Linked DNA regions of Homo sapiens. The protein of the gene in region 1 purifies or fractionates together with the protein of each later gene. This does not show direct contact. Each region holds a gene or a part of one and is shown on either strand. Other genes may lie near its edges.

Region 1 (4,022 bases):
GAAAAACTTCACAATGCTTAGTACTTATAACTCTTATAATTATGTCTTATTAAGGGATCTTTCTTAAGACATTTTGAAAAGCTATTTTAATATTTCACTACAAACAAGTGATAATATTAAAATTAAAGTATATCTATTACAAATACATCAGTAAAATATTTTGTGACCGAATTTTAAGAATTTTGTTATATTTTTCAAATGAAATTGAAAAAAATTAAATGTTTATCTAACATCACTTTTATTGACACATTGATATTGCATAACTTTGAATTTTTTCAGAAACTATACAAGGGAAATTAAATCCTGCATTTACATTTGCTAGCAACTAATGAGTGTGGACTGAGGATAATATTTCTTGCTTTACAGGTTAGTTTAAAATAACACGATCTGCACCCCCATAATTTCTAATTAACCTTTTTTCAGAACTAAATAAACATCAAATTAGCCATCAGAATGAATCTCTACAAGTAAGGGGAAATGGAAAGGTAAAGCAACATTTCAGTAATACAAGCCAAAAAGTATGTGCATTAATGGGAAAAATTTTTGGAGGAAGCTGTTACTGAGAATGACTTTTTCTGTCAGATTCACTAAGAAGTTGCTTGGCTTTTATTTGTGAGAATATTCCATTTTGAAGGCACTATTTTTACACTGGTTAATTAAAAATATTTACCCAAGCCACTTTTCTTAAACATTTCTATTTATTACTTTTCTGCACATTTGTAAAAACAAATTTTTTCCCCAAAGTATTAATAATTAAAAATATGTTTGTCTCTTGACCATCTACATTCATTCTGCAATAGTTTGTTTTGGGTGTCTACATCTTGACTTGATATAAGAAGAGCTTTTGTCAATGTTTAGTTACTAGTTGATTTACTTTGGGTGAAGTAATTTCCTGGCTATCCTGAATCATATCTGCTTCTTTTATTTTCTTTCAGAACATTTTGAAATGTCTTACCTATTATATATGTAATTTTTCTTCTTCCCTGGGTTCATGCCAATAGGCTTCATCTTCCTATAGCCTCGAAGGCTTACAGAGGATGAACAGAGTTATTTTGGAGGGGTGAAAGAAGAGCTGTAGAGTGGGCTTCCCTCTCAGCCCACAGTAGGAGAGAATGGCTACATCTTAAAACTTGAGGGACTCTGGAGCAGGCTCTTCCTTGCCACAAGAATGTGCCTCACAGCCTGTAGTTTCTAACTTCTGGTATGCTTTCTGGCCATTAAACAATATTTCATTAAAACAAATCCTCCATTTTAAAAATTGAGGCCAAGTCAAATTAATTAACTCACATACCAAGTCATCTATCTCACCATACTAAGAATTAGCAGGAAGTCGACACGAGACAATGGCTTTGAGAGTGAACACCTTCTTAGGGGGGAAGCAAATGGGGCAGACCCATTTCTTAATCCTGACCTTTTTTTCTAGGTCCAGCCTATCTATTTATCCCCTTTTGCTATGTCACATGACATTGAAAGTACCTGTTTAAATGTCTGCATCTCCCATTAAACTCAAATCTCCTTCACGGTATCCAATGTTGGATCCATAGTGCTTGGTGCATAGTAGGTGTCTAAAGAGCTTAACATTGTTGTCATTGTTATTCTTGAATTAAGGCTTGTTTATGCTTTGATGCTACCACATGGAGCTATGGTCTTGGTGACAGAGACCCTTGTGTGCTCTTCCGTCATATAGTTTGTGGCCTCTTCAGAATTGCTTGTAAACTGTTATTTATTTCACCAACAATTTTAACTCTGCTCCAACCCTTAAATCTCTTGCCACTAGACCTACCAGAACCTGCCTTCCCAATGTCAGCTTCACTTTTAATGTTTGCTTTACCTTCCTTGCTGTTGATTTAGCTGGACAAAGAGAGACATAACTGTATCTTGTAGCCAACTACCAATTGCTTCACTCCAATGTCAGCTTGGAGGATACTTTGTGCAGCTATTTTATTCTTTTTTAGTTAATGTCATATCAAATTCTCCATGGTACATATTCTGGATTTTTCCAGGTTTTCTAGTCTGCCCAGATTATCTCCAGACTCTTCATTCTTAGCAGAGGACCATACTTTTTAATTCACAGAGGATGTTAAGGTCAGTTTGGGCAAATTATTTGTCAACACTCATCTTGAATACAGTAAGCATTTCTTTGACCAGCTGTGAGCATAAGAACTCTTTTCTTATATTCAGCTATCGAATTTGTCTCTATAATATTTATATCTTTAATTTTTTACCTCTTAGAGTATTTATAGAAAATGCTTTTACATCTAACAACTCTTAATAGTGTCTAAGATAATATTCAGTTTCTTCAACCCATGCTTATTTACCATGGGTTGAGAGTCTCATTGTTACCAGGGCTTTTCTCTTTTGGATGCACTTCTGTTTTTATTAAAGTGTGATCCCCAGAGTTTAACATAGAGGACTGTCCTCTGATATATTTATCTTCTCTGGATATCATGTAGTAAATCAACCTGAAATCTATTCTACTCTTCCCCCCTCCGTTTTTTTTTTGCACTCATACAACACTGTTTAATTATGTATCTTTTTTGCACATTCTTCTGCAAATACACTTATTTTCCCCATCGAATTTTATGTTTGGCCACTTGATTTGGGACTTTTACAAATACTTACTGCAATTAAATTTAATCATTACCTTTAGTTAGCCTGTTGTTCCAGAAAGTCAAGGTCATCTTGGATTCTGAGTCCTTGATACAGAATAGCCATTTTCACCAATTTAGAGGAATTAACAGATTTGATCAGGATATAATTAACATCTTCATCCAAGTAACTATCTACAATGCTGAACTGGAACTACCTTTGGCATATTCCTAGACACCGTCCTTTACGTTAGACTCCTGCTTTACATTAGTCCATAAATTATTCCTCTTTATAAGGCTGTTCAACCAGTTATATAGTCAAATAACTCTCTTTGAAGTTGACATTCCTTTGTGTGACTTAAGAGAGTATACTGAGACAGACTTGGTCAAATTCCTCCCTGAAATGAGTCTCCACTTTCTGCAGAATAGATGTCAAGTAACTGCTATTAAAAACAAAAGGAGATAACTAGGTTAGTTGACAAGGATAGGTTCCTGTGACCTCTCCTTATCTTGTAGATAACAGCACTTCACATTTTGAATGCTTGCATGCCATGTTTTTAATCATCTCTTTGGAATAGTACCTGCAATTAATGTCCAGCTCTCTAAATTATAGCTGATGGAATCCACCTTCCCAATTTTGAAAATTGAGGCAATGGTTGGACTCTGTCAACACTTCTCTTCATCACAATATTTTTAAAGATGACTTTAACAATTCCTTTATTTTATCCACACATGCTTTCAATATTTTGTAGTGTAATTTCTCCAAATTAATGGATTTAAACTCATTTAGAATATTTGCTATCATTCTACATGCTGGACCTTTGTTATTTTTAGTTTTGTTCTACTTTTATAAGTATGGATATTGTTTTCTTAAGGAATGGATATGAAACAAAACAAGAGCAGAGTAGTTCTGCCTGTTTGTTCATGTACTGTGATTTGAATATCTTTATCCAGTGTGCTCTTCCTATATCTAATAAAAATGCCATTATCACCACTTTATCTGGCAATCATAGCAAGAATTAAAAGGACATTTTTTCTTTTTTTTATAAGCTTCAACTTATTTTATGTCTTATATTTTATAACACTCTTCTTAGAGACTCAGCCACTATTTTGTACTTCTCTCAATAAAGTTTATTATGGATTATGCTTGTCACTGAGGAAGATACAAAGCAAAGTTTATGACACACACTCCTTGACTTGAAGGAATTTAAAGTCTGCATGAACAAAACCAAGAAATAGTCTCAGAATTATACATGTCAGCACTTAACAATGAGCATAATATTTGTAGAATAGTTTTAATAAGTTTTAAAGAAGTTAGGAGAAGGAAGAGAGTTCGGTATGATGGAAATATTGAGTAAGGCTTTCCAGAGGAAATCTAAGACTTAGCTGAGGTTTTAAAACAAGATCAGGATGTTGGACATCACAGGACCTGTA
Region 2 (3,936 bases), on another chromosome or scaffold:
GGCCTGTCCCCGAGGCTCCCCGCCTGACCTCCGTTTCTGTTTCTCCGTCTCCCTGCCATCTCCACTGGGGTCTCGCCCACTCCCACTCGGGTCTCTGCAGGAAGCCGTGCCCTCCTCCCACCCTCTTTGATCTCCCGTTTCAAAGCCGCTCTCCAAGGGAGGGGAGGTCGCTCCTTCCGCCCGTTTTACAGCTCAGGATGGTGACACCTGAGACCCTGCTCCGCCTTCTCCCCCGGCACCCATCCTCCCGCCTATCTAGGTGGTGGCGCAGCTCGCCAGGGCTCCGCGCCTCTGTCCCCGCCTCCCTCCCTTCCCCCTACTGAGACCCCCTCGGGGTCTCGGGAGTGAAGCGACAGAGAAAGCGTTTTAATAAAGACCTTGCGTCAAGTGATTGGCTGTGACCTCTGCCCTCCCAGCCTCGCGCCCTGGGCTCCTGCTTAACCCTTCAATGTCCGCCCAGCGCATTAAGGGGAGCGAGTCGCCTGGCGACTACTTCCAGAGTCCCCAGGCATTACGTGAGCCCGAAGCAGGGTGGAGGGGTGGGGGGACCGTGCCGCCCCCGCCCAGCCTCTCCGAGTTGTTCCAGCAGGGGGCGCCGTTGCCTCACTTAGATCCCTAACCCCCGGAACCCCGCAGCTCCCAAGCCCCTCTCTGAGTACGGAGTGGTCCCACTGGATCCAGTTCAGGGTTCAATGGAGCTAGGGCCAGCTACGGCTCAAGATCTGGGGTCCGCCTGCGGGTGGGGTCGCCAGGTGTCCGGCACCAAGGAGTTGAATGCACCGAGTCAGGTTGGGGATGGGTGGGGAACAGGCGAGACGTGAGGAACTCGGGTGGGGGACAGCCATACACGAGCCCTGAGCATCTGCGCCCGCAGCTAGCTCCCCCCGCCTCTGCGGAGAGCGCGATTCAAGTGCTGGCTTTGCGTCCGCTTCCCCATCCACTTACTAGCGCAGGAGAAGGCTATCTCGGTCCCCAGAGAAGCCTGGACCCACACGCGGGCTAGATCCAGAGGTTGGTGGCGGGGGCGCAGGGCCCCCCAGGTGGGGGGGGGCGGAGCGGGAGGCGGGGCCACTTCAATCCTGGGCAGGGGCGGTTCCGTACAGGGTATAAAAGCTGTCCGCGCGGGAGCCCAGGCCAGCTTTGGGGTTGTCCCTGGACTTGTCTTGGTTCCAGAACCTGACGACCCGGCGACGGCGACGTCTCTTTTGACTAAAAGACAGTGTCCAGTGCTCCAGCCTAGGAGTCTACGGGGACCGCCTCCCGCGCCGCCACCATGCCCAACTTCTCTGGCAACTGGAAAATCATCCGATCGGAAAACTTCGAGGAATTGCTCAAAGTGCTGGGTAAGGAAATGTTCGAGGGCCCAGGTGGGGCAAGGGGGGGCTCTGGAGTCCTCGAAGTTGGGGATGAGAAAGACAGCGGGACCACAATCAGGGCGTGAGACACTGGGTGCCTGCATCCCCGAAAAACGTGCCAGGCGTCCGGGTCCCGGGGCTCTGGGCACGACGCCTAAATCCCGCTTTCTCCTGCGGGGGCCCACCGGTGCCAACACTGCGGTGACTCACGGCCTGTGAATCACGTAGAAACCAGAAGCGCGAGGTTGGCCTCTGGGGGAAGGGGAGGCTGGCCTCAGCGGCCGGACTCGGCGGGCCGAGGCACCTGGCTCTCTGCAGTTCAGAAGCTGCGGGCTGGTGGAGCCACGAACCCTGCATCCAGACTGGGAGCCCGGTTCCCTACCCTGCCCAGCCGCTCGGAGACATTCCAATCTCCTTCCCGGTGCCCCCCTCGGTAACCCAATCCCCAGGGCAGGCTCATTACCCCTCGGCGCCCAGCTCTGCCTGCGAGGTGATCTGCTGCCCCAGCGCCCCCTGAGCCCCACTTTCCTCCCCCTCTGCACTTTCCACTCTGCTCTCCCCACCCCCCATCTGTGAGACAAGTATTTTCATACAGCGAGCAGCTCCAGAGTTCTAAAATCGCTAGGGATAATTATCACTTTCTTGGATTTCAACAAATGGTTTCGTGTGAAACCCCAATCCCACATTTCCAAAAATCTAGGTTCCCACCTACCTCCCCCGACCATAGATCGGCTGCAGCCCAATTGGGTGTGTTGGTCAAAGGTGGGGAAAACTAAGTCAATCCAGACTGCCTTTCCCACTTTTCCAGCCCACCTTCTGTGTGCCCTCTGGGCCAACTGGGCTAGACATCTGGGGCAGGGGAGAGTGCCAGGACCTGGTGACTGGGAGAGGACTCTGGGGGAGAGATGGACGTTAGTTAAGGACCCCAGCCACTGGGAGCGTAAGGGCAGGCCTGCTGCCTTCAATTCCTGCACTCAACAGAGAGACGGTAGTTCGGCTGGGTTGGGCGAGAGGGGAGGGAGGGAAGGCACCCCTCTCCCTGGACTATAGGAGTGAGTCTGGATCTAAGACAGGTCTGGAATGCTGCAGAGAGAGCAGGGATCTCCATCAGTCCTTGCCGTTAGTTCTTCCTGCGATCTAACCACAATACTTCTTGGAGTCATATCAGTCTTTCTTGCTCTGTCCTTGCTAAACTTAAAGACAAAAAGAAATTTTCTCTTTGGAAAGCCTAGATGCCACTCCCTCCTCATCTTCTCTGGATTCTGGCCCCTGTCCTCAGTGGATGAGGTGGTGGTCTGGTACACCCCCAGGCCCCAGCTGAAGAGTAAGATTCAAGGCCCCAATCCTGCTGTCTGTCTTCAGTCTGTTTGTCCTCCCTGCAGGGTCTCTCTGAGCCACGTGCCCTCCTCAGGCCCTGCAGGGGGCAGATTAAAAACAGATCCATTAGACAAACACAGTCCTGAGCCAGCTAAGGCCGGCTAAGCTGGGCCCTCAGCTCCACAGGCACCAGGGGCTCGCTGAAAGGATGTCTCCTCTGAACCCAGCCTTGCCTCTGCAGGAACTTCGGTCCTGGCACACCCCTCTTAGCTCTAGTCAAGGGTCCATCTCAATAAGACTTGGGGACCTGTCATTTCTTCCTAGACACAAGAGTTCAGCAGCCAACAATGGGGGTCCTGGGCTCCCCAGGGGCAAGGCTTCCTCTCTCCCTCTCTCTTCTGTTTGCAGTAGGGTAGGTATGCTTTGGCACTGAGGGGAAAGAGGATTTGTTTCTCTAGGAACCCAGGTCTGGAGGAGGTCCAGGGAGTTGGCCAGATCAGGGGCAGGGAAATCCTGCTACCTGGCAGAGGGCCCTTTCACCCCCGCCTAGTGCATCCCTGGCTCTACTCCAGGACAGGGCGGCAGATCAGGCCAGGTGAGGTGGGTGTGTGGAGCTTAGACCTGGAGCCCATCCAGAGAGGCCCCCTGCTCTGCACGTCTTCCTTTCAGAGGGGTGCTGTCTCCTATCTCCCCCACTTCGGTTAATAACTGGGGAGCAGAGAGAAGGGGTCCAATCTGGGCTGGGATATGGAGGTGCACAGAGAGTCTGAATCCACGAGGCTGAATGAGATAGCCGGACCCTGTGAGGGGAGTGGGGGGTCCTGAAGAAGGGGATACATCACACAGAGCGGGGAGGGCAGTCTCCTTTTCTATTCCTTCTTCTCACAGCAGAGGGGGTTCCCTTGAGGGGACAGGGGTATGGGAGTCTTCCAGAAGGGCAGATGAGTACGGTGCCTAATGCAGAGAGCTTTGAGCCCCAGCTTTTTGCTTTCCTTTTTTTTTTTTTTTTTTTTTTTAGTGGTAGGGTCTCACTGTGTTGCCCAATCTAGTCTCAAACTTCTGGGCTTAAGCAGTCCTGCTGCCTCGGCCTCCCAAAGTGCTGGGATTACAGGCATGAGCCATGGCACCTGACCCTTTGCCTTCCTTTTATCAGTAAAAATAATACCAACAATCATAGCTATTGTTTCCTGAAAACTTAAGCATATGCCTGGCACTGTGTGTGCTAAGTCCTAAACACATACCATCCCAATTGGCTTTTTTTTTT

What was found.
Region 2: the proteins of GUCY1A1 (region 1) and CRABP2 purify together in Homo sapiens (affinity purification with mass spectrometry; one large-scale study listed by BioGRID and IntAct). This does not show direct contact.

What each region holds. Positions count from the first base shown.
Region 1 is NC_000004.12:155,669,527-155,673,548, forward strand, and holds part of GUCY1A1 (guanylate cyclase soluble subunit alpha-1), read left to right. Parts: intron 1-279; exon of another isoform or gene 280-366; intron 367-4,022.
Region 2 is NC_000001.11:156,702,784-156,706,719, reverse strand, and holds the start of CRABP2 (cellular retinoic acid-binding protein 2), read left to right. Parts: upstream 1-1,136; 5' UTR 1,137-1,273; coding exon 1,274-1,343; intron 1,344-3,936. UniProt on the Homo sapiens protein: Transports retinoic acid to the nucleus. Regulates the access of retinoic acid to the nuclear retinoic acid receptors.